2 linked regions of the Homo sapiens genome follow. The protein of the gene in region 1 interacts with the protein of each later gene in a pairwise test. Each region holds a gene or a part of one and is shown on either strand. Other genes may lie near its edges.

What was found. The genes of interacting proteins can lie anywhere in the genome.
Region 2: the proteins of NME7 (region 1) and ZNF23 interact in binary tests that used the Homo sapiens proteins (3 or more experiments, as listed by UniProt).

The regions. Positions count from the first base shown.
Region 1 is NC_000001.11:169,298,211-169,301,868, reverse strand, and holds part of NME7 (nucleoside diphosphate kinase homolog 7), read left to right. Parts: intron 1-3,105; coding exon 3,106-3,313; intron 3,314-3,658. UniProt on the Homo sapiens protein: Possesses an intrinsic kinase activity. Displays 3'-5' exonuclease activity with a preference for single-stranded DNA. Does not seem to have nucleoside diphosphate kinase activity.
Region 2 is NC_000016.10:71,446,965-71,449,698, reverse strand, and holds the end of ZNF23 (zinc finger protein 23), read left to right. Parts: coding exon 1-1,606; 3' UTR 1,607-2,102; downstream 2,103-2,734. UniProt on the Homo sapiens protein: May be involved in transcriptional regulation. May have a role in embryonic development.

The sequences.
Region 1 (3,658 bases):
AATGTTTAGCTCCTACTTGTAAGTGCGAACATGCAGCATTTGGTTTTCTGTTTGTGGATTAATTTGTTTAGGATTATGGCCTCCAATTGTGTCCATATTATTGCCAAGGACATAATTTTATTTTTTTATGGCTGTGTAGAATTCTGTGTTATATATATATACCACATTTTCTTTATCCAATCTGCCACTGATGGGCACTTGAGTTATTTCCATGTATTTGCTATTGTGAATAGCACAGCAATGAGTGTATGAGGGCATGTGTCTTTTTGGCAGAATTTCTTTTCTTTTGGGTATATACCCAGTAATGGAATTGCTAGGTTAAATGGTAGCTCTGTTTTAAGTTCTTTGAGAAATATCCACACTGCTTTCCACAATGGCTGGAGTAATTAATATTCCCACCAACCGTGTATAAGCATTCTCTTTCCTCTATAGTCTTGCCAGCATGTTATTTTTTGACTTTTTAATAATAACCATTCTGACTGGTGTGAAATGGTATCTCATTGTGGTTTTGATTTGCATTTCTCCGATGATTAGTGATATTGAGCGTTTTTTCGTATGCTTATTGGCTGCTTGTATGTTCTTTTGAGAAGTGTGTATTTATGTCTTTTGCTCTTTTTTTAGTGGGGTTGTTTCATGCTTGTTTGATTATTTAAGGTCGTTACAGATTCTGCATATTAGTCCTTTGTTGAATGCATAGTTTGTGAATATTTTCTCTCATTCTGTGGATTGTCTTTTTACTCTGTTGCTAGTGCAGAAGCTTTCTGTGCAGAAGCTCTTTAGTCCCACTCGTCAATTTTTGTTTTCGTTGCCATTACTTTTGAGGACTTAGTCATAAATTCTTTCCCCAGGCCAATGTCCAGAATGGTGTTTCCTAGGTTTTCTTCTAGGATTCTTATAGTTTGAGGTCTTACTTTTAAATCTTTAATCCATCTTGAGTAAAGTTTTGTATATGGTTAATGTTAAGGGGCCAGTTTCTTTCTTCTGCTTATGGCTAGACAGGTATCCCAGCACCATTTATTGAATAGAGAATCCTTTCTCCATTGCTTATTTTTGTTGACTTTGTCAAAGTTCAGATGGCTGTAGATGTGTGGCTTTATTTCTGGGTTCTCTATTATGTTCCAGTGATCTATGTGTCTGTTTTTGTACCAGTACCATGATGTTTTGGTTACTGTAGCCTGTTGTACTTTTAAACTATTTTGGTAGTCTTGTATACATAAAGCAATGTTCATGGAACCTTTCTATTTTAACTAGTTTGATATATATTTTGTTCCTTGACATAGAACAGATAATATATGTTACACTTTATGTATTCTAAATATTTGACATGTAATTAAATTTAAGTGAATATTTTGCATGCTCATATTATTATTACTGTTGCCAAAGACTGTTTACACTTCTAATAAGAAAGAATGTTACATCAGCCAAACTAAATGGCCACAGTAGACATGTTATTTGATATCCTGCACTGAGTAGTGGGTTTTTAAAAAAATTTGTATGTAAGAAAATTATTATGCTATAGATTATTTCAAATCAAGTGTTATAAAATATTCCTAAGCCTTCTTAGAATAGCTATATACACTTTTCTAGAAAATTGGTGGAAATTATCTTTTGGTATAAACTTTGTATATGTTTATAGCATTAACTTACAACTCCTAGTCTAATGATTTATGTGTGATTTGCATGCAGTAAATTTTATTAAAGGAATGAATTAACTAGTTGCCTGTTAATGAGAATGATGTAACAAAAGACTAGGTGAAGTAATTAAATTTTCATGAAGCAGTATCTATGATCAGGCACATCCTTCCCTATATTGTTACATGCCATATTCATAGGCTTATTCAATTGTGTGTTTTGAGAATTTTGTATTAATAGGGCGTTAGATTGTAAGTGTCTTGAAGGGGGATCTTTTTTGTGGCACAGACGCTGATATGTTATAGGCAATTATTAAATGCTTATTGAGTGAATAAACATGGTTTGCTCCTTTGATTTGGGTTTTTTTAAATCTAGTGGTTGGTCTTGGGGGTTTTGTTTGTTTTGGCAGCAAAGGTCTGGCAGAAAATGTATGAGGAGGTATTATAGAACTCTTAGGATAGAAGACAAGAATACTTTTTTGTACATGCTGTTTTTTAGAAATATTCTTCAAAATGAATGGGAGTGTTTTAAAAAGGAAGTACTGAGGGGAGCTGACATATAACATGCAGGGTGGAAGGAAGTGTGTAAAAAATAGTCATAAGTTAGTGGGCACAAAAGAGCCTGTCACACCATGCTCCTTTCTCCAGGAGGATCTCTTCTCTCTACTTTGGATGAGAGAAAACCATGGGCTTACTCTAAAAAGTACTGTGTCCCTGCTTAATATAGTCAGAGGGAGGATGTCACTTATTTCATAGTTAAACTTGTCATTGCATCCTGTACACATATAAAAGTAGAAAATAAAATGAAGTATTGTCTTTTATACCTTGGGGGACTGTGACTCAGTGCTGGATTTTTAGTCAAGAACCGATGCGTACACTTTAATAATTTAATACAGAAATAACCCAGAGTAGTTTTTACGCTAATAAAAGGATATTTCTTGAAGCCTGCTGGGGATTTTTTTTTTTATCACCAAACCAGCTCAGTGTTTATTGATTAAGAGAGTTCTTTGTCAGTCTTTGAATTCTAATAGTTTTACACAAAAATAAATAAATTCTTACTAAAAATATGTTACAAGGCATCCATCCCTATATATTGTGAAATTGTACTTGACTGCAGTGGTAAACACATGTAAATAAAAAGGAAAATCCTCTGTACCTGTTAGAGCACTGGGAAAAGCATAGGTCAACAGTATGCATTTTAAGTCATGAAATAGTCTTAATTCAACAGAACAGTGATTTTTCTGGTAACAGTAATTTGACATTACTAGTGATTTGAAGTGAATTGAGCCACTGCAAGACACTCAATTTATGAAAAATTTCTCCTGCCCATGTAAAATTAACTATGCTTAATGGTTCTAAGATTATAATATTCATGTCTATGTTGAAATAATCCAATTTAAATATATCCTGTCGTTAAGACAAATACCTAGTTGACAGAAAAAAGAAGCAAACTAATCTTCTATCTGTTTTGTAGTGAGCTGATCCAGTTTATTACAACTGGTCCTATTATTGCCATGGAGATTTTAAGAGATGATGCTATATGTGAATGGAAAAGACTGCTGGGACCTGCAAACTCTGGAGTGGCACGCACAGATGCTTCTGAAAGCATTAGAGCCCTCTTTGGAACAGATGGCATAAGAAATGCAGCGCATGGCCCTGATTCTTTTGCTTCTGCGGCCAGAGTAAGGTGTTTTAAAAATATTTTAATGCTCTTCTAGTTCTGTTAAATGTTTTATATCAAAGGAAAGCATTTCTATCACTGGTGACTTAGGGTGGATTTATGCTGCTGCTCTAGTAGTAGAGAAAACCTTTGACATCTTGCCTACTATCAAACAGTGATTCAGTGTGTCTCCTTTGTGAACTGGTAACCTGATCATGATCAACGTAAGTTTTCTCCAATTAAAACACTTCTCATCCTGTTTCTTGTTCCCAAGACTTAAATTACTGAGGCTCCTAAATGTTTGAATTATTGAATTCATGTAAGAATACCAGTTTATGGCTAGTAGATATTAAAAAGAAGATATAAT
Region 2 (2,734 bases), on another chromosome or scaffold:
AGTGAAAGATGAGACAAGCCCCGTGGAGGAGTGTTTTTTTAGTCAAAGTTCAAACTCATATCAGTGTCATACCATCACTGGAGAGCAGCCCTCTGGGTGTACAGGATTGGGGAAATCCATCAGCTTTGATACAAAACTCGTGAAGCATGAAATAATTAATTCTGAGGAAAGACCTTTCAAATGTGAAGAATTAGTAGAGCCCTTTAGGTGTGACTCTCAACTTATTCAACATCAAGAGAACAACACTGAGGAAAAGCCTTATCAGTGTTCGGAGTGTGGCAAAGCTTTCAGCATTAATGAGAAATTAATTTGGCATCAGAGACTTCACAGTGGGGAGAAACCCTTCAAATGTGTGGAGTGTGGGAAAAGCTTCAGCTACAGTTCCCATTATATCACACATCAGACAATCCACAGTGGGGAGAAGCCCTATCAGTGTAAGATGTGTGGGAAGGCCTTCAGTGTTAATGGAAGCCTAAGTAGGCATCAGAGAATCCATACGGGAGAGAAGCCCTATCAGTGCAAGGAATGTGGAAATGGCTTCAGCTGTAGTTCTGCATATATTACACATCAGAGAGTCCACACTGGAGAGAAACCTTACGAGTGTAATGACTGTGGGAAAGCGTTCAATGTTAATGCAAAATTAATTCAACATCAGAGAATCCATACTGGAGAGAAACCTTATGAATGTAATGAATGTGGAAAAGGCTTCAGGTGCAGCTCCCAGCTTAGGCAGCATCAGAGCATCCACACAGGAGAAAAGCCCTATCAGTGTAAAGAGTGTGGAAAAGGCTTCAATAATAATACAAAACTCATTCAGCATCAGAGAATCCACACAGGTGAGAAACCCTATGAATGCACTGAATGTGGAAAAGCCTTCAGTGTCAAAGGGAAGTTAATCCAACACCAGAGAATTCACACAGGCGAGAAACCCTATGAGTGTAATGAATGCGGGAAAGCCTTCAGATGTAACTCCCAATTTCGGCAGCATCTGAGAATTCACACTGGGGAGAAGCCCTATGAGTGTAATGAGTGTGGAAAGGCCTTCAGCGTTAATGGGAAACTAATGCGGCATCAGAGAATTCACACTGGGGAGAAACCTTTTGAATGTAATGAGTGTGGGAGATGCTTTACTTCTAAAAGAAACCTACTTGATCATCACCGAATCCATACTGGAGAAAAGCCCTATCAATGTAAGGAATGTGGGAAAGCCTTCAGTATCAATGCCAAACTAACTAGGCATCAGAGGATACATACTGGGGAGAAACCTTTCAAATGTATGGAATGTGAGAAAGCATTCAGCTGTAGTTCTAACTATATTGTGCACCAGAGAATCCATACAGGAGAGAAACCCTTTCAGTGTAAGGAGTGTGGAAAAGCCTTCCATGTTAATGCCCATTTAATTCGGCATCAGAGAAGCCACACTGGGGAGAAACCCTTCAGATGTGTGGAATGTGGCAAAGGCTTCAGCTTTAGTTCTGACTACATTATACATCAGACAGTCCACACTTGGAAGAAACCCTATATGTGTAGTGTGTGTGGGAAAGCATTCAGGTTTAGCTTCCAGCTCAGTCAGCATCAGAGTGTCCATAGTGAAGGAAAATCCTAATAATGAGAAAGATATAGAAAACTCTTAAGGTTAATGCCAAAATGGATCAAGTATCATCAGATTCATCCATTGAAAAACCTCCAAGAGGGCATGAATATGGCAGAGTCTTCATATGGAAACAGTTTTTATTCTATTCAGTTTAAATCAGGAAAGGATGACCAGTTAAAGAGAAACATCCAAAAATAGCTTTGTTTTGTACCAACAGGAATTAGAAAATATAATGAAAAGATTTCGTTCCCAGCAGCATCAAGAAAAGTAGATTTTCTAGAAATAAACAGTTATGGAGGACTTGTATGGAGAAATTTAAGTCTTCACTGAGGGCCACTTTACAAAGGAAATTTGAATAAATGGAGAGAGAGAGAAGCCTTGTTGTTGGATAGGAAAACCCGTACTAAAGATACTCTACCTACATTAATTTATTTGTTTAATTTTTGACAACAAGCATGTATTACTTTTGAAAAGATGAAAAATAAAGATTTATTTAAAAAAGGAAAAAGGTATGAGTACATTTTTAATTTTCATGTAATTGAGAAAACCTTTCTAAGTATTAGATGAAAGCTAGAAACTATCCACAGGGTATGTACTGATAAATTGACTACTCAAAAACTAAATATTCCTGTATGTTTTTGTTTTAAAGTTTAAAAGATAAAGCGCAAAATGGGGAAATACTTTTGTAAAATTTGTGATATAAAAGTGTAGTATTTGGGCATGGTGGATCAGACCTGTAATCTCAGTGCTTTGGGAGGCTGAGACGGGAAGATTGCGTGAGGCCATGAGTTCCAGACCTGTATGGGCAACATAGCAAGATCCCATCGCTACAAAAAATAATAAAAGCCAGGCGTGGTGGTATGTGCCTGCAGTCCTTGCTGCTTGGGAGGCTGAGGCAAGAGGATCACCTGACTCCAGGAATTCGAGGCTGCAGTGAGCTATGACCACCACTGCACTCCAGCCTGGGTGGCAGTGAGACCCTGTCTCTTAAAACATTAATATCTAAAGATAAATAATTTAGACACACTAACAGGCAGCTTTTAAACAGATACTAAAAAATGACTGTTAAAGTAAGAAGAGGTATTCAATCTCAGTACTCTAAGGTGTGAAAATTAGTAAGTTTTTTTGCATATTACATTG